Linked DNA regions of Homo sapiens. The protein of the gene in region 4 purifies or fractionates together with the protein of the main gene of each other region. This does not show direct contact. Each region holds a gene or a part of one and is shown on either strand. Other genes may lie near its edges. The genes, in order: TMEM192, C1GALT1, COCH, NTRK3, SLC39A11, ACAD10 and SH3BP4.

Evidence for each region.
Region 1: the proteins of NTRK3 (region 4) and TMEM192 purify together in Homo sapiens (affinity purification with mass spectrometry; 2 studies listed by BioGRID and IntAct, with this or other methods). This does not show direct contact.
Region 2: the proteins of NTRK3 (region 4) and C1GALT1 purify together in Homo sapiens (affinity purification with mass spectrometry; one large-scale study listed by BioGRID and IntAct). This does not show direct contact.
Region 3: the proteins of NTRK3 (region 4) and COCH purify together in Homo sapiens (affinity purification with mass spectrometry; one large-scale study listed by BioGRID and IntAct). This does not show direct contact.
Region 5: the proteins of NTRK3 (region 4) and SLC39A11 purify together in Homo sapiens (affinity purification with mass spectrometry; 2 studies listed by BioGRID and IntAct, with this or other methods). This does not show direct contact.
Region 6: the proteins of NTRK3 (region 4) and ACAD10 purify together in Homo sapiens (affinity purification with mass spectrometry; 2 studies listed by BioGRID and IntAct, with this or other methods). This does not show direct contact.
Region 7: the proteins of NTRK3 (region 4) and SH3BP4 purify together in Homo sapiens (affinity purification with mass spectrometry; 2 studies listed by BioGRID and IntAct, with this or other methods). This does not show direct contact.

What each region holds. Positions count from the first base shown.
Region 1 is NC_000004.12:165,095,861-165,099,360, reverse strand, and holds part of TMEM192 (transmembrane protein 192), read left to right. Parts: intron 1-3,500.
Region 2 is NC_000007.14:7,185,544-7,189,043, forward strand, and holds part of C1GALT1 (glycoprotein-N-acetylgalactosamine 3-beta-galactosyltransferase 1), read left to right. Parts: intron 1-3,500. UniProt on the Homo sapiens protein: Glycosyltransferase that generates the core 1 O-glycan Gal-beta1-3GalNAc-alpha1-Ser/Thr (T antigen), which is a precursor for many extended O-glycans in glycoproteins.
Region 3 is NC_000014.9:30,884,559-30,887,838, forward strand, and holds part of COCH (cochlin isoform b precursor), read left to right. Parts: coding exon 1-98; exon of another isoform or gene 99-116; intron 117-426; coding exon of another isoform or gene 427-483; intron 484-835; coding exon 836-1,062; exon of another isoform or gene 1,063-1,237; coding exon 1,238-1,754; exon of another isoform or gene 1,755-1,768; intron 1,769-3,280. UniProt on the Homo sapiens protein: Plays a role in the control of cell shape and motility in the trabecular meshwork.
Region 4 is NC_000015.10:87,879,240-87,882,739, forward strand, and holds part of NTRK3 (NT-3 growth factor receptor isoform a precursor), read right to left. Parts: intron 1,190-3,500; coding exon 1,031-1,189; intron 1-1,030. UniProt on the Homo sapiens protein: Receptor tyrosine kinase involved in nervous system and probably heart development.
Region 5 is NC_000017.11:72,648,689-72,652,188, reverse strand, and holds part of SLC39A11 (zinc transporter ZIP11), read left to right. Parts: intron 1-2,920; coding exon 2,921-3,019; intron 3,020-3,227; coding exon 3,228-3,386; intron 3,387-3,500. UniProt on the Homo sapiens protein: Zinc importer that regulates cytosolic zinc concentrations either via zinc influx from the extracellular compartment or efflux from intracellular organelles such as Golgi apparatus. May transport copper ions as well.
Region 6 is NC_000012.12:111,754,826-111,757,599, forward strand, and holds the end of ACAD10 (acyl-CoA dehydrogenase family member 10), read left to right. Parts: intron 1-842; coding exon 843-920; intron 921-1,507; coding exon 1,508-1,648; 3' UTR 1,649-2,274; downstream 2,275-2,774.
Region 7 is NC_000002.12:235,039,017-235,042,516, forward strand, and holds part of SH3BP4 (SH3 domain-binding protein 4), read left to right. Parts: intron 1-1,871; coding exon 1,872-3,500. UniProt on the Homo sapiens protein: May function in transferrin receptor internalization at the plasma membrane through a cargo-specific control of clathrin-mediated endocytosis.

The DNA.
Region 1 (3,500 bases), on a different chromosome or scaffold from region 4:
TAATCCCAGCACTTTGGGAGGCTGAGGTGGGCAGATCCCTTGAGGTCAGGAGTTTGAGACCAGCCTGGGCAACATGGAGAAACCCCTCTCTACTAAAAACACAAAAATTAGCCAAGTGTGGTGGTGTGCCCCTGTGGTCCCAGCTACTCTGGAAGCTGAGGTGGGAGAATTGCTTGAGCCGAGATCATGCCACTGCACTCCAGACTCCAGCCTGGGTGACAGAGTGAGACCCCATCTCAAAAAAAAAAAAAAAAAAAAGAAAGAAAAAAAGTTGTAGTAAATAACTTAGTTTCTACCTTTTAAAAAGATCCTGTTTTTCAATTTGAGTCCAGAATAAATCTTAAAAATTTTTGAATCCAGGCCAGGCTCGGTGGCTCATGCCTGTAATCCCAGCACTTTGGGAGGCCGAAGCGGAAGGATCACCTGACGTCAGGAGTTCGAGACCAGCCTGGCCAACATGGTGAAACCTCATCTCTACTAAAAATACAAACGAAAATTAGCCGGGTGTGGTGGCACGCGCCTGTAGTCCCAGCTACTTGGGAGGCTGAGGCAGGAGAATCGCTTGAACCTGGGAGGCAGAGGTTACAGTGAGCCGAAGTCATGCCGCTGCACTCCAGCCTGGGCAACAAGAGCGGAACACTGCCTCAAAAGAAAAAAAAACTTGAATCCATATGTAGTCTTCCTACTTGGAGGAGGCAGCGAGAAAAAGAAAAAGAAGGAAAAAGAAAAAAAAATTTTTTTTGAATCCAGGCTGGGCATGGTGGCTCATGCCTATAATCACAGAGCTTTGGGAGGCCAAGGTAGGAGGATTGCTTGAGGCCAGGAGTTCGAGACCAGCCTGGGCAACATAGTGAGTTCCCCCATCTCTACCAAAAATGAGAAATTTAGTGCTGTAACAAATGAGCACCAAGTTAAGTTTTAAAAAAAAAAAGAAATTCCTGGGCGTGGTGGCTCACGCCTATAATCCCAGCACTTTGGGAGGCCGAGGCGGGTAGATTCCCTGAGGTCAGGAGTTCGAGACCAGCCTGGCCAACATGGTGAAACCCTGTCTCTACTAAAAATACAAAAATTAGCTGAACGTGGTGGCGGGCAACTGTAATCCCAGCTACTCGGGAGGCTGAGGCAGGAGAATTGCTTGAATCCGGGAGGCAGAGGTTGCAGTGAGCTGCAATCATACCATTGCACTGCAGCCTGGGTGACAAGAGCGAAACTCTGTCTAAAAAAAAAATTAAGGCCGGGCACGGTGGCTCATGCCTGTAATGCTAGCATCTCAGCACTTTGGTAGGCTGAGGCGGGAGGATCACTTGAGGTCAGGAGTTTGAGACCAGCCTGGTCAACATGATGAAACCCCATCTCTACTAAAAATACAAAAATTAGCTGGGTGTGATGGCAGGTGGCTGTAATTCCAGCTACTCAGGAGGCTGAGAATCGCTTGAACCCGGGAGATCAAGATTGCAGTAAGCTGAGATCGTGCCACTCCAACCTGGGTGACAGAGTGAGACTCGATCTCTAAATAAATAAATAAATCTCTATTTCAAAATAAATAAATAAATAAGTAAAATAAAATAAAATAAATAAATTAGTCATGTGTGGTAGCCTGTGCCTGTAGTCCTAGCTACTTGGGAGGCTGAGGTGGGAGGATCCACTTGAGCCCAGGAGTTTGAGGCTGCAGTGAGCTATGATTATGCACCACACTCCAGCCTAGGTGAAAGAGTGACACCCCCCTCTATAAAAAAAGAAAAAAAAATTGGATCAAATTAGAGATTTTTTTCTCCAAAAAAAAAAAAAAAAGGCTCCACAGAATTTAACTTTTATTTTTCTTCTGTTCTGTTAGTGCATTTTCTTTTTTCTTTTTTTTTTTTTTTTTGAGATGGAGTCTCGCTCTGTCACCCAGGCTGGAGTGCAGTGGCGCTATCTCGGCTCACTGCAAGCTCCGCCTCCCGGGTTCAGGCCATTCTCCTGCCTCAGCCTCCCGAGTAGCTGGGACTGCATTCGCCCGCCACCACGCCTGGCTAATTTTTTGTATTTTTAGTAGAGACGGGGTTTCACCGTGTTAGCCAGGATGGTCTCGATCTCCTGACCTTGTGATCCGCCGGCCTCGGCCTCCCAAAGTGCTGGGATTACAGGCATGAGCCACCGCGCCCGGCCTGTTAGTGCATTTTCTTAAAGGGCATGCTGCAAGTTCATCTACTCAGTGAAATTCTCAGTGGAAGCTGAAGGGCTATGCTATATCAGCGTGAAGCAGTTTATAGAGTTGGGTGATCCTGACTGCTCTTGAAGGGGAAGCATTTATTGCTCCCTGCCTCTTGTGAGAATGAGCTTGAGAATGTTCAACTGTTGATGTGCAGCTCTCTCTTTTGGCCAGAAGATGTCAGGGTAACACAAAGATTAAAAAAAAAGAAAAAACTTAATTTTAAACTACAAAAGATCTTATATGATCTGTGACCAAAATAATACTCAGTTTCTCAAGTGATGGTCTGGAAATAGTATTTTGGAAGCTCACAAGGAGATTATTTGATCTTTACCTTTCCAAAATCTGCCTTTCAAATTTTTGTTAAACATGTGAGCCGTAATCATAATCTATTTCTGAACACTTGGACCTTTAGAATCACAGGTGATATCACGTTTATGTGGCTCATGTGAAAACCCAGAAAATCAAACGGAATGGAGCAGGTACTTACCTTATTTCTATTTTTTAAAATATTTTTTCTTATTTGCAAAAAAAAAAAAAGATAAATCTATGGAGATGTAGGATGTAGGACTTACAGATAACAGTACTGATAATATTAACTTCAGCCTGATATATTTTGTTATTTTCCAGAGAAGAAAAAAAATTATTTACCTTTGGGTGGAGATGGGAGAAAGGGCTTTGCTTTCCTACCAAGTGAAAATATTTACCTGATTAATCTGTTCTCCTTCCTTAGATCCAAATACATATATATATATATAATTTTTTTTTTGAGAGTCTTGCTCTGTTGTCCAGGCTGGAGTGCAGTGGTATGAACTCAGCTAACTGCAACCTCTGCCTCCCAGGTTCAACTGATTCTCCTGCCTCAGCCTCTCCAGGCTAGACTACAGGCACGCACCACCACACACAGCTAATTTTTATATTTTTAGTAGAGACGAGGCTTCACCATGTTGGCCAGGCTGGTCTCGAACTCCTAACCTCAGGTGATCCGCTCCCCTTGGCCTCCCATAGTGCTGGCATTACAGGCATGAGCCACTGCGCCCGGCCTAATAATATTTGAGTTCAAAATGTATTTGGGCCAGGTGCAGTGGCTCACGCCTGTAACACCAGCACTTTGGGAGGTCGAGGCAGGCAGATCACCTGATGTCAGGAGTCCAAGACAGGCCTGGCCAACATGGTGAAACCCTGTCTGTACTAAAAATACAAAAAAAAAAAAAAAAAATTAGCTGGGCATGACTGGGGTGGTGGTGGGCGCCTATAATCCCAGCTACTCAGGAGGCTGAGGCAGGAGAATTGCTTGAACCTGGGAGGT
Region 2 (3,500 bases), on a different chromosome or scaffold from region 4:
CTGCCAATCCTTAGCATTTTTTGGCTTGCAGCTATGTCACTCCAGTCTGTGACTCTGTTATCACAACATAATCCCTGTGTGGCTCTGTCTTCAGATGGTGTGCTCCACTTCTTGCAAGGATACTAGTCGTATTGGATTAAGATCCACCCTAATCACCTCATCTTAACTTGATTACATCTGCAAAGACCCTATTTTGAAATAAGGTCACGTGCAGAGGTACTGGAATTAGGACTTCAACCTATCTTTTGTGGGGACACAGTTTAACCTGTAACAGTTGCACGGTTTATCTTTTACATCGTTCAGTAAATGTTTAGCATTATAGACTGAATCAGAGGCTATAGTGGAAACAGGATGGGACACTTACATTTATTTACATATATCAGTGATGTCTTAATCTGTTTTCTGTTGCCTCTAGCAGAATATCTGAAACTGGATAATCTATAAAGAAAAGAAATTTATTCCTTACAGTTAGGAAGGCTGAAAAGTCCTGGTTCAGGGGGCCACATCTGGTGAGGGCATTTGCTGGTAGGGACTCTGCAGAGTCCTGAGGATAGCACAGGGCACCACATGGTGAGGGGGCCGAGCATGCTAGCCCAGAACTCTTTCTTTCTTTCTTTCTTTCTTGTAAAGCTACCAGTTCCTTTCCCATGATAACCCATTCATGAGGGCTGAACCCTTAGTACCCAGTCACCATTTAAAGACTCCAGCTCTCAATACTGCCACAGTGGTGATTAAGGTTCAACATGAGTTTTGGAGGAGACAAACATTCAGACCACAGCAAGTGCTTACTATGTGCCAGGTCCTGGAGATAAAACAGTGGATAGGCAAAAATCTCTGTCCTCATGGAGCTTACATTCTGAAACACGGGTTCTAAAAATGTGGTCCCTGGATCTGCAGCATCATCATCACCTGGGAAGTTGTTAGAAATTGAAATTTTCAGGCTCCATCCCAGAACTCTTTATTTAACTAGCCTTCCAAATGATTCTGATGGAGACTCAGGTTTCAGAACCACTGATCAAGATGGAAAAGAGACAGTAAACAAGATGAATAAGTAAAATAATATTTGATATTAATAGGTGCTGTGGGTAAGCATAGGGTGGCCAGTGAAGACTCCTGAAAAGTAAAGACCTGAAGGAGTTGGAGAGTGAGCCATATGAGCACCTGGGTGCGTGTTCTTAGCAGAGAACAGTTAAGTGTGAAGACCCTGGCACGTTTGAGGAATGACAAGCAGTTAGTATTAGGTTCAATCTATGAAATTGCTGCTGTTTGTTCATTTTTGACCTACAAAAACACCAAATACTGGGGAGAAGAGATCAGAAAGAAAGGGGTGGAGTAGGATGCAGATTGTGGGTAGATCCTTGTAAGGTTTTGGCTCTCTAAGATTAGGAAGACGGGAGGGTTTTGAGCAAATGAGTGATGTGATCTGATTTCAGTTTTAAAAGGATCATTGTGGCTATTGGTAAAAATGGGCCAAAGAAGCAAAGGCTAAAGGAAGGGGAAAGTTGGTTAGAATGTTGTTGGAGTAGTTAAAAGACAGAGAGGTTGCTCAGACCAGGGTGATAGCAGTGGAGAAGTCAGAAGAGGTACAAGACTAAAAACGCACAGTAAATGGTTTGAAAAGTAAGTTTTTTTCATCCCACTCCAGTTACCCAGTTGTCCTCCTCAAAGGCAATTAGTGTTAAAAGTAGTCTTATCTCTATTCTTCCTGAGATTTTTTTTTTTTTGAGACGGAGTCTCACTCTGTCGCCCAGGCTGGAGTGCAGTGGCGCGATCTCAGCTCACTGCAAGCTCTGCCTCCTGGGTTCACGCCATTCTCCTGCCTCAGCCTCCCCAGTAGCTGGGACTACAGGCACCTGCCACCATGCCCAGCTAATTTCTTTTTTTTTTTGTATTTTTAGTAGAGACAGGGGAGATCTTTTATGTAAATGTGAGAAACAGTTTTAACAAATTAGTGGAGAGGTTGTTACCTGGAAACATTTAGCAATGTCTACAGACATTTTTGTTTGTCACAACTAGGGGGAATACTACTGGCATCTAGTGAGTAAAGGCCAGGGATGCTGGCTAAATATCCTACAGAGGACCGGACGGCTTCCACAACAGAGAGTTATCCAGCTCTTAATGTCAGTAGCGCCAAGGTTAAGAAACCTTAGTTTAATGGGATTTACAGAGGTTGGTGGGAAGCAAGTGTTGTAGTCAGAGAAGACAGTAGGAAGAGGAGCTGACCATATTGGGAACCTTTCAGTAACTGTAGACAGTTCAGGATTGCTGAAGCAGACATAAATTATAAGGCACAGAATAGCAAAAGACGAGGCTGGAAACCTGGACAGGCTCTAGGTCATAGCCTTTATTTATATATCATGTTAATAAAAAATGTTTAGTTTTTGTCTTGTAGGCAGTGGAGTTCCGTGAAAGGATTCATGGGGTGACATGGTCAGCTTTTCATTTTAGAGAGCTCATTCTGGTGACGGGGTATGAGTTAAAGAGGGATAGCACTTGAGTCAGAGAGGTTAGATATTGTAATAGCCTGTGGGGAGAGAGGAGAGTCTGAAATAGGATAAATACTAGAAATGGAGAGGAGACAATGGATTAGAATAATATTTAGGAAGTAATGTTGGCAAGACTTGGTAATTGGATTTGGGGTGAAGATAAGGGAAGCATTAAGAATATCTGTGTACTTTGTAGTTTAGATAATCCTGTGGCTCTGAGTGAAATAGGAACCCATTGGTGAATAATTTAGGTAATTACCAGTAATTAAGGTAAAATGAGCAGAGGAAAGTAATGAGTCACTTTGGAGGTGTTGAATTAGAGATGCCTATGGTCCAGGTGGAAGTATTTAGCAGGCATTTGTGTATGTGAATCTGAAACTTGGAGAAGTCTGAAAGGATCAAGAGATCATTTTGTTTGACAAGTGTGGAGAAATTAGTGGACTTTAATTTTTATCATATTATTTCACTCTGTAGATAAAAATTGCCTCCCTTTATTTAATTTTTATCAGAAAAGTAATGTGTGTACCCGATGCAAAATTAAAACATCAAAAGGTTATAAAATAAAAAAAAATTTGTCCTTCCTTGCTCATGCCACCCAGTGCTAGTTCCCAGAGATAGCTCTTGTTAAATATCATATGTATATATATCTTAACAGATTTTAAAATATATACAGAAACATTTAAAAAGCCAAGTGAAATCATACTAGAAAATATTTCGGTACATTGTCTTAAAAAATAAACCTTTTATCTTATACAGTTGTTAAAATGAATGACATTGTGTTATGGATAAAATAAGTGAAGGGGTAAATTAAAGTGCAGACTAACCGATAAGCATGATCTCTGATGTAAATTAAAAGCTGAACATACATATGTGATGATATAGGCATTACCCAACGATACGAAAGCAGTTACTTTTGGGGAGAGATAGTGGTAGAGATGGTAAAGAAAATTTACTCTTTTCTGTCTATGATTTTCTTTCATTTGTTTAGGTTTGTTCCTTTTGTTTTCTTTACAT
Region 3 (3,280 bases), on a different chromosome or scaffold from region 4:
TCCCAAAATAGAATTTTACTTGAAAAACTTTACATCAGCCAAAGATGTTTTGTTTGCCATAAAGGAAGTAGGTTTCAGAGGGGGTAATTCCAATACAGGTAAGTAGACTTTGATACCTGGGATGTAACATAGGAGAGGGTTATCAGTGATCAGACATGTAAAACAGTATTATGCTATTTTATATGAGCAGATGTGAAATCCTCCTGGAACTGAAATCTTGGCTAGGTCTGCATTTGATCATCTGAGATAAATTTTCAATTTATAATGGAAGTATACCAAAGTGTTGATATTTCTTATTTTAAAAAATATAAAGCATGGTGATTTAGAATTCTCATACATTGGATTGACTAGATATAACATTGGAGAAGTATCTCTTTGTAATGCTAAAAAGAAGTGAAAATCAACAGACTTATCTAATGAATGCAGATGTGGCAGAAAGAATGAGTAGCACTACCGTTGACTCTGAAGAGAGACTTCTTAGAGGTACTAATCAGTCACCAAAGGGCTACATAGAGAGCACATGCATGGAAGTGGGAATCAGTTTTGTGTTTCTAACTGGCGATTGATGTGGGGTAAACAAATGTGAGGCTTCTAGGAGGTGGAGGGGGAACTAATATGGCTTGTGAAGATAAATAGGCCTGGTAGATAATTAAACTTTCCCAGCTGATGCATCTGTTACAGAACTGGGTTCTATATAATTCTTTTTTGTGTGCCCCGCCCCACTGCCAGTTCTATATATAATTCTTAAACTTTGCAGCATCAAATGCTACAGGGAAACAGAAATGTGGTTTGAGCAGTGGTAAAGGCTATTTGTTTGCTTCTTTTTCAAATTTAGGAAAAGCCTTGAAGCATACTGCTCAGAAATTCTTCACGGTAGATGCTGGAGTAAGAAAAGGGATCCCCAAAGTGGTGGTGGTATTTATTGATGGTTGGCCTTCTGATGACATCGAGGAAGCAGGCATTGTGGCCAGAGAGTTTGGTGTCAATGTATTTATAGTTTCTGTGGCCAAGCCTATCCCTGAAGAACTGGGGATGGTTCAGGATGTCACATTTGTTGACAAGGTAAAGTGGTGAGGGTTATCTTCTGTTACAGTGATGGGTATTCCATTTTGGACCTCTAAGTGCAGTGCTGACTGCCTCTTATCTAGATTAACTTGAAACATTCAGGATTTTCCAGTTTTTAAGAAGAAACAACTTTTGATCCTTTTGGATATCTTTTATGTGTCTCCCCCATTAGGCTGTCTGTCGGAATAATGGCTTCTTCTCTTACCACATGCCCAACTGGTTTGGCACCACAAAATACGTAAAGCCTCTGGTACAGAAGCTGTGCACTCATGAACAAATGATGTGCAGCAAGACCTGTTATAACTCAGTGAACATTGCCTTTCTAATTGATGGCTCCAGCAGTGTTGGAGATAGCAATTTCCGCCTCATGCTTGAATTTGTTTCCAACATAGCCAAGACTTTTGAAATCTCGGACATTGGTGCCAAGATAGCTGCTGTACAGTTTACTTATGATCAGCGCACGGAGTTCAGTTTCACTGACTATAGCACCAAAGAGAATGTCCTAGCTGTCATCAGAAACATCCGCTATATGAGTGGTGGAACAGCTACTGGTGATGCCATTTCCTTCACTGTTAGAAATGTGTTTGGCCCTATAAGGGAGAGCCCCAACAAGAACTTCCTAGTAATTGTCACAGATGGGCAGTCCTATGATGATGTCCAAGGCCCTGCAGCTGCTGCACATGATGCAGGTAAGGTCCTTGTTCTTTATAGGAGAAGGGAACAGAAAAAACGGTTCAGTGAATTTAGGAGTAAATAAAAATTTAAGCATTTATTTCATTAAACAAACACCTGTGGCTTTACCCAATATTAACTGTTAAAGCAGCCCTACTCATCTCATTCTACAGATAAGGAAGCAAACTTCCTGGAAATGACATTTCTAGTAAGTGGCAAGGCCAAGATCCAAACCCAGGCATTCTGGCTCCAGAGTGCACATTCCTAACCACTGTATTGTTGGGAGAATTGCCATGAGAACCATGTCACATTAAGGAAATATGCTTATACATATACAATTAAGGTGCTCATATTTAGCTCAAACTTGGACTATATCTCCAAATAGCCAGCTTATAACCTACCATGAATCTGCCATTCAGTAATTTATCCTAACTTTCTTGTGTATGAAACAGGTAATTGCTCTGTCACCAGGCTGGAGTGCAGTGGCATGTAGTGAGCTACAACCTCCAACTATTGGGCTCAAGCAATCCTCCTGTGTCAGCCTTCCAAATAGCTAGGACGACAGGCACATGCCACTGCCCCTGGCTAATTTTTAAATTTTTTTGGGGAGAGACGGGGGTCTCACTTTGTTGCCCAGGCTGATCTCAAACTCCTGGGCTCAAGCAATCCTCACACCTTGGCCTCCCAAAGTGCTGGGATTACAGGCATAAGCCACCACACCCAACCCTAACTTTTATTTTAGTCAAGTTTTGTCTGGCATGAGTTTCCTAAGATAAGGTCTCCCATAGACTTTACCTATCCCATCAAAATTTCCTTGGCCAGGTGCAGTGGCTCACATCTGTAATTCAGCACTTTGGGAGGCTGAGGTGGGCGGGATCACCTGAGGTCAGGAGTTCAAGACCAGCCGGGCCAACATGGTAAAACCCAGTCTCTATTAAAAATACAAAAATTAGCTGGGTGTGGTAACATACACCTGTAATCCCAGCTACTCAGGAGGCTGAGGCACGAGAATCACTTGAACCCAGGAGGCAGAGGTTGCAATGAACTGAGATCGTGCCATTGTACTCCAGCCTGGGCGACAGAGTGAGACTCTGTCTCAAAAAGAAAAAAAAAAAAAAAAAAAAACTTTTTCCCCCCCGCTTAAGATAATAAAAACACACTCTGGTGTTATAAAAGGGTATAAGAAGGGTTTCTTTCTTCCTCACCCCAGCCTTAATATTACTTTTGGCACAGGCCTCGTTCCTGAAGACATTAACGTAATGTGTTAGAGATCAAATAGGCCAACAAAAAGCTAAGATTCCCTTTCTGAGGATATAACTGAGTGACAGGAGGGAAGAATCAATGGACTTGTTTTTTTTAACACTCTTCTGTACCTCATTTTCCCTACTTAATTCCTAATGACATAACCTTTTTCCTTTCTACACATTAGTACCTCTGCCAATGTACTCACATATTTTTACAGATACTGATGAAAGATTATTCTTAAAACAGAGAACACATGCAATTTAAGTTCCACATCTAGCTTGTAAAAAGTATTTTTTAT
Region 4 (3,500 bases):
ATAAGATTTCAATACCAAAAGGGTCTTGTGTTTACATTTTCCCAGCAAACAGAAGACCATAAAAAGAATTGCGATGTTTCATAGGGATGTTTCATAGGTCGACTGGGTTGAAAGACTGAGCTCCTTACTGCCTACAAACTGCACTGAATTCCCTGGGGCAACATGGCATGGTCCATGCATCACTGAGAAGCATCTTGATGGGCTTTGGAGGCAGAGGAGTCCTAGGATTACAGCCCAGGCTTTGTCCCTGCTTTGGAGGCTCTTACCTGTGAGACCCTGGCCAGCCCATTTCAGTACCTCAAGCAGACCCCCTTCCTTTAACCTGAATCTCAACAGGTGTTTTTGCAAAAATTACTGAATTAATAGAGCTAACATGCTTAGAAAAGTGCCTACCACTAAATGTCAGCTACTATTAATTTATGTTTACTAGCATTTTTTATTATTGCAAATTACAATTATAAAAAATATAATGGCTATTTATTACTAAGTTTAACAGTAAACATACTAATAAACATAGTAAAAACATAGTAATAAAATAAACACGGTTTATTTTATTCCTAGACGTTCACACATGACTCTACCAGTTATAAAACTGGTCTTCCCAAATTGACCATCTGGTACATCCCTGGGCTTGGCATACCTAAAACCTTTGTGCACCCAGATTATGTGGGCATACTAAGTAGTGGGTGTTTCCACAAGATGGCACAATTGAAAAACTCATAGCTGTTCTGTTTTCCTTTTTTGTCATAGTGAAACATTTGTGATTTTTAAGGGTAGCAGATTTAACAGAGGCATGACTTGAGTCTCAATTTAGACCTCTGATTTCATGCTCTTTTGACAATTACACCACATTTCCTACAGTTCCATTTTTTTTTTCCTACTAAGAAGCTCTCTGCTCCCACTAATGCCTGCATTCACTCTGCTGGCTCTAAATCCCACCTAATGTCTTGTTCAGTAGGTCCAAGTTCTGGGCTGAGATAGCTCTTATGAGCCCTCCCCCAATCAAGATTCCTACGCACCCCCTTTTTACCTCCGTGTTTGAGAGTTGGAACCATGGCTGCTTTCCATAGGTGAAGATCTCCCAGAGGATCACCCCGAAGCTCCATACATCACTCTCTGTAGTGAACTTCCGGTACATGATGCTTTCAGGAGGCATCCAGCGAATGGGGAGCATGGTGTGTCCTCCCACCTAAAAGGGGTTGAGATAGAGGCACACAGAGTGACCAGATGGCCAGAATGAGTGTTATCTGTCTGCACTCTTCACACATAGATGCACTCTTGATGCATCCTATTCTAAGATAGTCACAGCTTTATGCAACTTCTATCAGAGGTGTGTGAAGATGCTGACTTTGGAGACCTACGATAAAGGAGACAGCTAGACTAGCAACTAGAGGTAACACCTGAGGGAAGGTAGGTTCCTTGGCACTCAGTGTGTAGAAAGATCAAGGTAATCTGAAGTGAGAGAGAAGGTTTCAGAATCTAGCACTACAGAAAAATCTAACCTTAAGAGCAAGTCCAGCAAGAAGTCAGCAGAATGACTAAGCCAGTCACCAAGGATCAGTATCTGCAAACATCAGGTTAGATTCTTGGCTGCAGTGGCACAGTATATTCCATGTGCATCTGATCTGCAGAACTTTAGCTTCTAACTGACAATCTCGAATCTCTCACCACAATTTAGGACTCAGTGTTTCAAGTGAAGGAGACAGAGACATTCCAAAAGCGTGGAAGACCACGTGCTAATAAGGTAGGAGATGGACAGAAAGAGAATTCACCACAGTTCTTAGTAAGATCTCAAAGGACAGTAGGGAGAGTCTTTAAAAATAGCCTAAGGAGGATATCAACCACCTGTGAATCTGCCAAACTGAAAGCCAAGGGGAAAAGGAAGTGACTGACAAGGATAAACACCCAGGGTACCCTTTACTGAGAAAAACATTAGGGAACTCCTCTTTGCCCAGCAGGCTAGAGATGTTAGCATAAGTGGGAGAAAATTCACAGCATGTGTGAAAACTCAGGAACTAACTGCATCATTAGTAAATAGATTTTCAGGAACTGAAACTTTTGCCTAATACATGGAACTCATTGTTAAAAAAACTACTTAATATTGAAAAAAGAGTTGTCTATTTATGTCCGGATGAGGTATTACTTAAAGTTCTCATTTCCTTCTTTCTTATTTATTTATTTATTTATTTATTTATTTTGAGACGGAGTCTCGCTTTGTCACCCAAGCTGGAGTGCAGTGGCGCGATCTCGGCTTACTGCCAGCTCCACCTCCCGGGTTCACGCCATTCTCCTGCCTCAGCCTCCCGAGTAGCTGGGACTACAGGTGCCCGCTGCCACACCCGGCTAATTTTTTGTATTTTTAGTAGAGACGGGGTTTCACTGTGTTAGTCAGGATGGTCTCGATCTTCTGACCTCGTGATCCGCCTGCCTCGGCCTCCCAAAGTGCTGGGATTACAGGCTTGAGCCACCGCGCCCGGCCTAAAGTTCTTATTTCTATGGGGGGTCAGTTAGAGAAATAATAACAATGAATAATTAAGAACGAATAAGTTGGGAGATGGGCAATCTTGTTTCCAAAAAGGGAAATCATGTTTGCCTTAACCACTTGAAGAATTTTAGGAGGTAAATTATAATACAAGTTTGCAGAGCAGTTCTTTTCTTTTCTTTCTTTTTTCTGAGACAGAGTTTCACTCCTGCTGCCCAGGCTGGAGTGCAGTGGCGCGATCTCCGCTCACTGCAACCTCCGCTTCCTGGGTTCAAGCGATTCCCCTGCCTTAGCCTCCTGAGTAGCTGGGATTATAGGCATGAAACACCATGCCTGGCTAATTTTTGTATTTTCAGTAGAGACGGGGTTTCACCGCATTGGTCAGGCTGGTCTCAAACTCCTGACCACAAGTTATACACCCACCTTGGCCTCCCAAAGTGCTGGGATTACAGGCGTGAGCCACTTTGCCTAGCCAGAAAAGTTATTTTCAACCTGGGACTTTCTAATCAGGATAGTTTTGTATCCAGTGTAAAGAAAACTGAAGATACTTCTTTCAGACAAGCAAAGACTCAGAAAGCTTACCACTCACATCCTTTCAGAAAATATAGGAGCCAAGCTAATTGAATACATATTCTAGAAAAACAGTAAAAATAACCCAAGCTATGCAATTATTGGAACATAACAAAAAATGCAGAGCAAATAAGCCACAAAAATGCAATTTAAATTTGAATAATGGTTGTTAATTTGGTAGTAAAAGTAATACAATTACTAATAAAGGCTTCCTGTAAAATAGAGACATAAAGTAAATAATAATACTAATAATGCTATTAGTACTACCACTGATACAACTAACATACTTATCTGGAATGAAACTTTCCAATAATTTCAACCATAAATGCATAGAAGAGTAGATATAGAAATAATTAAAAGCCTGATAAAGGCTGTATGTTATAGAAAGGAAAAAAGAAGCTTACAGTGATTAATTGTTGAGATTAACACTTTAAATTTAAATATGCTT
Region 5 (3,500 bases), on a different chromosome or scaffold from region 4:
CTGGCCCCCCACTCATTTGTGTAGATAAAGTTTTATTGGAACACAGCCACACTCAATGGTTTATGTACTGTCCATAGCCACTTTTGCACCTGCAATGTCAGAGTTGAGTGGTTGCAACAGAGACTCAGTGGACTGCAAAACCTCAAATATTTACTATCTGGCCCATGACAGAAAAAGTTTGCTGCCCCCTAGATCCAGGGATGAAGTTGGAGCATGTTTGAGCCCCTCTCTAAGGAGTCAAAGGAGAGCACAAACTTGGGTGATATAGACAGGGATTTGGGTAGACTCGTGGGAAATGCTGAGTGATGCAGCTTTTGTGGACATGTCCTGGGCTGGTGTGGTGGGGTGTCTTCTTGTCTGTCCACTCCACTTCATGAACAGTTCTGCCTGCAGGTTGGAGAGACAGGCTCAATGCTTCTGTCAGTCCCAAGAGACCATAATATTTCCTTTATTAAGGAACTGATCAGTTTTCGGATGCTATCACTTTTCAGATGCCCCCTGGGGAAGCTGCTTTGTCCCTCTTCACAGTTTCCCACCCCCAGCCAGTCTAGGCCCCACAGCTCCTAAGTCAGCTCAGGGCTTCTTCCCCCAACCCCACCCTAGGGGGACCATCCCTGCCACGGGGTGCTCACTATTCTCCATCACTTCTGTTACATATCCATGTCCCCTAATGCCACCTGTTTTGTTACTCCTGTCCTGTGTTGCTCCGGATCTCCTCCAGAGCTCTCCACATCAGATCTTGTATACAGTAAGCACCCTGGGCTGCAGGCTCCTGATGCATTCAGTAGTGGCCACAGGTGTCCTCGGCTCCCAGCCTGTGTTGGGAATTGGGATAGCAGGGAAGGGGCTCCTGGGAGGGGGGTGGGCTTGACTGCTTTCCTCATCCTCACCTCCCATGATGCCTGCTTAGGCCAGTGGCTCTCAACGCTGTTGCACACAGGGGCAGATTTTAAGCTGATGGGTAGATGCTGAGGGGCTCATTGTAATCTTGTCAAAAAGGGATGGGCACTAATTCTATGAACCACATGTGAGCTAAGTGGTGACAGGTATGAGATTCTGTTAGGGCTGGACTTTTCCTAAGAGTCTACTTGACTGGCAGACTCGAGGTGGGGGCTACTTCTTCCTGAGGTATCTGGAACTACGAACCTCAATGAAACATGTGCAGGAGTTGGGGGATAAAGGTAAAAAAAACAGGGTAAAGGCCAAACCCTGAAACAAAATGGAGGTCAGATGCTAAACTGGGGATTCGCCTTGGTGTTCTTTGTTAGAGGCTGGAACTTGGGCCTCAGCCGGATCAGGCCTGACAGGACCTTCAGGGCCACGAGTGTGTCCCAGTCCCGGGAGCCTGGGGCAGGTCATAGGCAGGGGTCCCAGCTACCAGTCTACAACACTCCCTTGCAGCAATGGGTAGATTCCTATTGGCAGCAAGATGGATGGACGTGAGCCAGTTGACCTGAAAGTCGGTGATGGTGGAGTTTCTCTTCTCTATCTAATCTACCCACAATTCCCTCGGGCCACACACCAGCATTGCTTGCCGAGTGGCACCCTCTTCTCACGCCCTTTAGATCATTGTTGATCAGATGGCCCTTCATGGAGGGGCTGCTTCTTGGAACTGTCCGGCCAAGGTAGAGTCTCACGTGCAAAAGGGCCTTCCTAAGGCACTCGGACTGGCCCCATTTCCCTCCTCTGCTTCCCTCATGCCTCTGTTTCCTGTGCAAGTTGACTTTTGGCTGATTTGCTGTAGTTTGCAGCATCCACAATAAGGGTTCTTCATGTACATGCCTGTGTTGTCTCCATGGCTAAATACTAAGCCCCCTGAGGCCAGGCATGTGGTCACAGATTGCATTTGTACGCATCCCATTTTGCTTCTCCCTCCTCTCACACTCCAATGCCTGGTTTGTGCAGAAAGCAGCTTCTCAAAGACAGGCATCTATCAGCACAGCCTGTCACTGTCCTGCAGAGGCAGGAGGTGAGAGGATCACTGTGAGCACCACTGGGGCCCAAAGAAATGCAGCGATGGTGCCAGACCTGCAGAGCCCACGGAGAAGCTGAGCCCAGAGCCAGATCTGTGGCACCATCAGCGTCTGCAGCTGCACTTCCTTGTCCCATTTCTGAAGTGGCCTCTGAATAAAATGTGATATACTCATTTCTGTGCTGTAACAGAATAGAAACCAAAATGCATTAAGCACCTCTCTATGCTAGGATGTGATAGGCATTATTGGGTCACTGGGTCACTCAGCAATCCTTTATGGTAGATATTGTTGTCCCTAAATTGTATACAAGAAACAGAGGTGTAGGCTGGGTGCCGTGGCTCACGCCCATAATCCCAGCACTTTGGGAGGCCAAGGCAGGCAGATCACTTGAGGTCAGGAGTTGGAGACCAGCCTGGCCAACATGGTAAAACCCCATCTCTACTAAAAATACAAAAATTAGCTGGAAATCACTTGAACCCGGGAGGTGGAGGTTGCAGTGAGCCGAGATCATGCCACTGCACTCCAGCCTGGAGTCTCCAGAGCGAGACTCCATCTCAAAAAAAAAAAAAAAGAAAAAGAAAAAAAGAAAAAGAAACAGAGGCGTAGAAAGTAAAATGAAAAGTGCAGTTATACAGCCACGTGGCAGAACTCAGGGCACCCTGAGAGCCAGCCAGTGTGTTCTGTGCTGTAGCAAAGCATTGTAAGGACAGAGCCTGCCCAGGACCCAGGACAGCATGATGGGTAGAGGGCTCACGTCACTCCCTCCTGCAGCCCCTGCTCTTTACCTAGACACACGTCCTGACCTTTCTCCTTCCTCTCCTACTGCAGGTCACAGGTCTCCTCCTGGCTTCCTAGCACCCACGGAGGTCTTGGCCTCGGCCAGGGACTCCCATTGTGTGAGCACCTATTCCAGACAGCAGCCTTCATGTGCTTTCTTGGTTTTTCAGGAATTTGGCCATTGGAATCGGGATCCAGAATTTCCCCGAGGGCCTGGCTGTCAGCCTTCCCTTGCGAGGGGCAGGCTTCTCCACCTGGAGAGCTTTCTGGTGAGTGCTGCCCAAGGGCAAGGCCATGTCACAGCATCCTCCATGTGGGCTTCTTTCAACAAAACAGTGATGTGCTTTTGCACTGCCATGCTCAGATATGACGTAGAATGGCATGCATCCATGTGCTAGGGTTGAGCCAACAGTCTGGGCACGTGGAGTGTCTGCTTGCCTCCCCCTGCGGTGGTAAATGTCTCTGTTCTCTCCTTAGGTATGGGCAGCTGAGCGGCATGGTGGAGCCCCTGGCCGGGGTCTTTGGTGCCTTTGCCGTGGTGCTGGCTGAGCCCATCCTGCCCTACGCTCTGGCCTTTGCTGCCGGTGCCATGGTCTACGTGGTCATGGACGACATCATCCCCGAAGCCCAGATCAGGTTGGAGAACCTTCCCTCCCTGTCTGTCCCTGTCCCAGTCCCAGCTGGGACCCCAGCCTTGGGATATGCTCTTTCTTCATTTGCCTTTCCTTTCCTTATTCCCTCCCCCTCTCT
Region 6 (2,774 bases), on a different chromosome or scaffold from region 4:
CCTTCAGTGTGTGCTGGCTGTGTTCCCCGTCATCTGGGAAGACAGCCACATTCTGCCAGCACTTGCTTCGCATCTTGTGACATAAGATAATAGTTGCCAACATGGCGCCCTTCATCCCTGGGTGCTGTCAAGCCGTACACCAGGCAGGGGCAGCCTCACCCAGCTCACATCAGCGAGACCTTGGGGCCTCTGTTTTGGACGGTGGTGTTTGACTTCTTGCTGGGAATCTGATCATTCTTCCAGGCTTTCTGCCTTCGGGTCTTTTTTGTGGTTTAGTTTTTCGTTTTGTTTTTGAGAGACAGAGTCTCACTCGGTGGCCCAGGCTGGAGTAGAGTGGCACAATCTTGGCTCACTGCAACCTCCGCCTCCCGGGTTCAAGCAGCTCTCTTGCCTCAGTTTCCCAAGTAGCTGGGACTACAGGTGTGCACCATCACGCCCAGCTAATTTTTGTATTTTTTAGTAGAGACTGGGTTTCACTATATGTTGGCCAGGTTGGTCTCAAACTCCTGACCTCAGGTGATCTGCCCGCCTCGGCCTCCCAAAGTGCTGGAATCACAGGCCTGAACCACCGCGCCTGGCCTGTTGTTTGTTTTTGAGAGGGGGTCTCACTCTGTTGTCCAGGCTTGAGTGCAGTGTTGCAATCTCAGCTTACCACAGCCCCCAACTTCCCAGACTCAAACAATCCTCTCACCTCAGCCTCCTGAGTAGCTGGGACTACAAGCACATGCTACCACACCCTGCTAGTTTTTGTATTTTTAGTAGAGATGGGGGACGGGGGGGCCTCACTCTGCCACCCAGGCTGCCCTCGGGTCTTTTATGATCGCATCTCCTCCTCCTTACAGGCTGCAGCCTTGGATATAGCCATGATTAAAATGGTCGCCCCGTCCATGGCCTCCCGAGTGATTGATCGTGCGATTCAGGTGAGCACAGACCAGACAGTTGGCTTATTTGAACCATCAATACTAGATGCCAAACTCTCCTATCTTCAGCCGCCCAGCCTCCCATAGACCCTGGCAGATGCCCTGTGTCACCCACTCACCATGCATGCAACTTTCCTTTTCCTCTTCAGAATGACCCAGCAAGGTGGGAGGTGCCATCGTACCCCCATTTTGAATGTGAGGAAACAGGCACAGAAAAGTGAAGTGACTTGTCCAGGTCACTGAGCTTGCAAGTAGCTGACCTCAAATTCACATGAACTTGGGTTTTCATAAGCCCAGAGCCCAGGCTCTTTCCCATGCAGGGGGGCCGCCTCCTTAGATCCTAACCCCCGGCCCCAGCACAGGGCAGAAGGCACCTGCAGAGTGGGCCTGGGGAGTCTGGAGGCCGTGGGATGGCAGGTGTGGCCCCATGGAAGCCCTCTGGAATATTAGTGATTGTATCACATAGGTGCCACAGGGAAGTCCGGGAAGATGGTTGTTATGGGCCATCAAGAGCAGGCTATCATTCCTGGGGCTCTCGGAGACAAGGGCTGACCCAGGGCCGCCTCCCTCCACTCTGTGTCTGCCAGGCCTTTGGAGCAGCAGGCCTGAGCAGCGACTACCCACTGGCTCAGTTCTTCACCTGGGCCCGAGCCCTGCGCTTTGCCGACGGCCCTGACGAGGTGCACCGGGCCACGGTGGCCAAGCTAGAGCTGAAGCACCGCATTTAGAGCCTTGGGGCTGCAGTGGCTCAATGTCCTGGCTGGTCCAGCTGTGCCCAGATCTGTCACTGATGTGCCTCGAAAGATCCGGTGTTTGTGGCTCCTGCACCCTGCTCAGCAGCTCTGTCCCGGGACAGTCAGGGTGGACTCAATCTTTCTGGTTCTCCACAGAAGACGTCTCTGCAAGAAGCCTGGAGTCTGTTTCAGGCCAGGAGGAGGGGATTTGCTGAGGGCCAAGGGGGTTCTGGGACAGAGTCTGGAAAGCTGGTCTTCAGGCTCTCAGTCCCAGGCTGGGCAGGCACGGTCACTTCACTTCAGCCTTTCAGTCCCTCTCTCTCTGCCTGTGGGAATCTGGACACATTTTGGGAGGCCTCCCAAGGCTGTGGGACGTGCTTGCTCTGGCAGCTGCAGGGTTCCTGTCTGGCCTCCCTGGTGAGCAGAGGGGCGGCCACGGCGGGCGGTGGCCTAGAGACCCAGGACCTGGGCGCCTGGGAAAATGGAATGCAACCCACATTGTAAAGCCACTGGCATCTGATTATCTCCATTTGAACACACAGCACAGAACAATCATTTAAATGTTATTTTGGAAAGGGGTTTTGGGGACACAGAAGAATAAGTAAACACATCTCGGAGGCTTTGTGGACTTTCTGTGTCATACAAAGAGAATCGAGTGGAGAGGTTCCCTTCAGCGCCTTCATGCCTCCTCCTGCCTGTGTTTCCTCGAGGTCCAGGCCATCATCTCAGCCCCATACATGCTGGGAGCACAGAGGCCACGGGTCCGATAAGTCCCGAGTTGGCTGCCTTCCCTCACTATGTAGCCCGGGGCTCTGTGCTCATACATACTTTACCCAGGAGCTGGCATGTGAGGCCCCTGCAGCCTCCACCTGCTCCATAGTCAGAATATCTGGGCGAAGGGGAGGTGGTGGCCCATTCGCCATTACACTTTGGAGCACAATCTCTCTTCTCTGAGGAGAGTGGAAATGCTTACTCACTTGCAGTCTGAGCTCCTTGAGAAACCCAGCGACATGCAGAGGTGAGCCAGGGGCAGTGAGGCCCCAGCCTGCTCGTCTCATAACTCGTGGTGGGGTAGCCAAAACTCGTCTCAGGTTAGACCAGACGGGCAGGAACCATCCCC
Region 7 (3,500 bases), on a different chromosome or scaffold from region 4:
TGCATTTTGTCCTCTCCAAAGCTCATTGAGGAAATACACTTTTTGTCCACCATGAGTGGAGTCTTAGGCTCTGGAGATCACACAGTTTCTAAGGGCTCCACTCGAGTCTGGGTTTAGTGATCCCAGAGCCGGGTTCTCTGAGACACCCAGATAGACGGGCCTGCTGTAATTTCACAGGAGGAGGTAGGTGGGGCTTCAAGGCCCAGGGATGCTCCCAGCTAAGCGCATCTCTGTAACCCAGTTAATGTAAATGAATAGAAACTGTCTACCTGATTTCCTAACACTTTCCCAAGGAAGTGTGATTATTTCCTTTCAAAGGAAAAGGAAACTGGCAGGTGATTTTCTGGGGTCGGGGGGGCAATTTGATAGAATACGATGACTGTGGACTTCATCACATTAGAAAAGATGTAGGTTTAGTTTAACTAAAAACGGATTCCTTTCTTTGGTCATTTGCTTTGGCAACTTAAAAAAAAAAAAGAAAGAAAGAAAGAAAGAAACGTTTCCTTTCTTTCTTTCAATTGTTTATTACGGGAAGCCAGAATGTCAGCAGACTCCGTAAGTGAGGCAGTTTGGGAGGTGGGGGAGGGGAGTCCTGGGGAGAAGTATATGTGCTTATTTTCTTCAGAAAGAGTGTTCTTCATCTTCTGAATATATCTTCTCATTTAATCATATCCATTATTTTTCAAAACACACCACTTGTTTGGCTGACTTATTTTTGCTGTTTCATTTGCCGTCTACATTGGTAACATACAGAGTTCAATGGCAGGAGCCATGAATTAACTTGATTCACTTTTTGAAGGGTTGGAATTTTTCAGACTGCTTCAACACTTGTTCAATGATAGTATGAGCTATGACTAGGCATAATCTCTCATTTTCAAGGTATGTAGACAGTCTGTTTTCATGTTGTGATTTTGAATGATAATTTAAAAGAGGTTGGGCCAGGCGCAGTGGCTCACACCAGTAATCCCATCATTTTGGGAGGCTGAGGCGGGAGGATCACTTGAGGTCAGGAGTTTGAGACCAGCCTGGTCAACATGATGAAACCCCATTTCTACTAAAAATACAAAAATTAGCCAGGCATGGTGGCACACACCTGTAATCTCAGCTACTTTGGAGGCTGAGGCAGGAGAATCACTTGAATCTGAGCGGCTGAGGTTGCAGTGAGCTGAGATCATGTCAATACATGCCAGCCTGGGTGGCGGAGTGAGACACTGTCTCATAAATAAATAAATAAATAAGTAAAATAAGAATAAAAGAGGTTGGAAGGAACTGACTTCAGAATTCTTACTTTATCTGAGGAAACAGTTTGGTGAGGAACAGGTTGAGTTTGGAAATTTAAGAAGCAGGTTGAGGGAAGCTTTCCATCCAGAGGCAGAGCTTGGAATCAGCTCATACATGTCATTGCGGGAGTTTTTGGAATCTGTTCATTTCCAGTCCCTGATCACATGCAGTGGTCACCTAACTCACCGTGTCACCGTGTTTTCTAAGTTAATCACATTCAGTTTCTCTTTGTATCTAGTAGCAGTTCTTTTAAGAAGAATTTTAACGTTGCCCAAAATGAGATGTTTAGGGCGTAGGGCATGTTAAATATTCCATTGCACTGATTTGCCTTTCTGTGAGTGATGGAGAGGCTCCTCTGTGGTCTTTCTGCCGGACATAGGCTGTCGATTTTGAAGGTGACCAAGTAGCAGGAACCAGTTCGTTGGCCAGGTAAATTACCTACTGAATTTCACTTTGGTTTGTTTCTGTTGGTGACTTGCCTGGGTTATTGTGCACCTGTCTGTTTACCACCGTCCTCTCTCCTTTGGGAAGCTCTCCGGACACCCCGCCGGCCTTGCCCTCACCATCTGTTTTCTTTGTGTTTTGCACAGTGCCTTCTCCCAGTGCCTTGCTCGTAGACAACCCCACACCTTTCGGAAATGCAAAGGAAGTGATTGCGATCAAGGACTATTGCCCCACCAACTTCACCACACTGAAGTTCTCCAAGGGCGACCATCTCTACGTCTTGGACACATCTGGCGGTGAGTGGTGGTACGCACACAACACCACCGAAATGGGCTACATCCCCTCCTCCTATGTGCAGCCCTTGAACTACCGGAACTCAACACTGAGTGACAGCGGTATGATTGATAATCTTCCAGACAGCCCAGACGAGGTAGCCAAGGAGCTGGAGCTGCTCGGGGGATGGACAGATGACAAAAAAGTACCAGGCAGAATGTACAGTAATAACCCTTTCTGGAATGGGGTCCAGACCAATCCATTTCTGAATGGGAACGTGCCCGTCATGCCCAGCCTGGATGAGCTGAATCCCAAAAGTACTGTGGATTTGCTCCTTTTTGACGCAGGTACATCCTCCTTCACCGAATCCAGCTCAGCCACCACGAATAGCACTGGCAACATCTTCGATGAGCTTCCAGTCACAAACGGACTCCACGCAGAGCCGCCGGTCAGGCGGGACAACCCCTTCTTCAGAAGCAAGCGCTCCTACAGTCTCTCGGAACTCTCCGTCCTCCAAGCCAAGTCCGATGCTCCCACATCGTCGAGTTTCTTCACCGGCTTGAAATCACCTGCCCCCGAGCAATTTCAGAGCCGGGAGGATTTTCGAACTGCCTGGCTAAACCACAGGAAGCTGGCCCGGTCTTGCCACGACCTGGACTTGCTTGGCCAAAGCCCTGGTTGGGGCCAGACCCAAGCCGTGGAGACAAACATCGTGTGCAAGCTGGATAGCTCCGGGGGTGCTGTCCAGCTTCCTGACACCAGCATCAGCATCCACGTGCCCGAGGGCCACGTCGCCCCTGGGGAGACCCAGCAGATCTCCATGAAAGCCCTGCTGGACCCCCCGCTGGAGCTCAACAGTGACAGGTCCTGCAGCATCAGCCCTGTGCTGGAGGTCAAGCTGAGCAACCTGGAGGTGAAAACCTCTATCATCTTGGAGATGAAAGTGTCAGCCGAGATAAAAAATGACCTTTTTAGCAAAAGCACAGTGGGCCTCCAGTGCCTGAGGAGCGACTCGAAGGAAGGGCCATATGTCTCCGTCCCGCTCAACTGCAGCTGTGGGGACACGGTCCAGGCACAGCTGCACAACCTGGAGCCCTGTATGTACGTGGCTGTCGTGGCCCATGGCCCAAGCATCCTCTACCCTTCCACCGTGTGGGACTTCATCAATAAAAAAGTCACAGTGGGTCTCTACGGCCCTAAACACATCCACCCATCCTTCAAGACGGTAGTGACCATTTTTGGGCATGACTGTGCCCCAAAGACGCTCCTGGTCAGCGAGGTCACACGCCAGGCACCCAACCCTGCCCCGGTGGCCCTGCAGCTGTGGGGGAAGCACCAGTTCGTTTTGTCCAGGCCCCAGGATCTCAAGGTCTGTATGTTTTCCAATATGACGAATTACGAGGTCAAAGCCAGCGAGCAGGCCAAAGTGGTGCGAGGATTCCAGCTGAAGCTGGGCAAGGTGAGCCGCCTGATCTTCCCCATCACCTCCCAGAACCCCAACG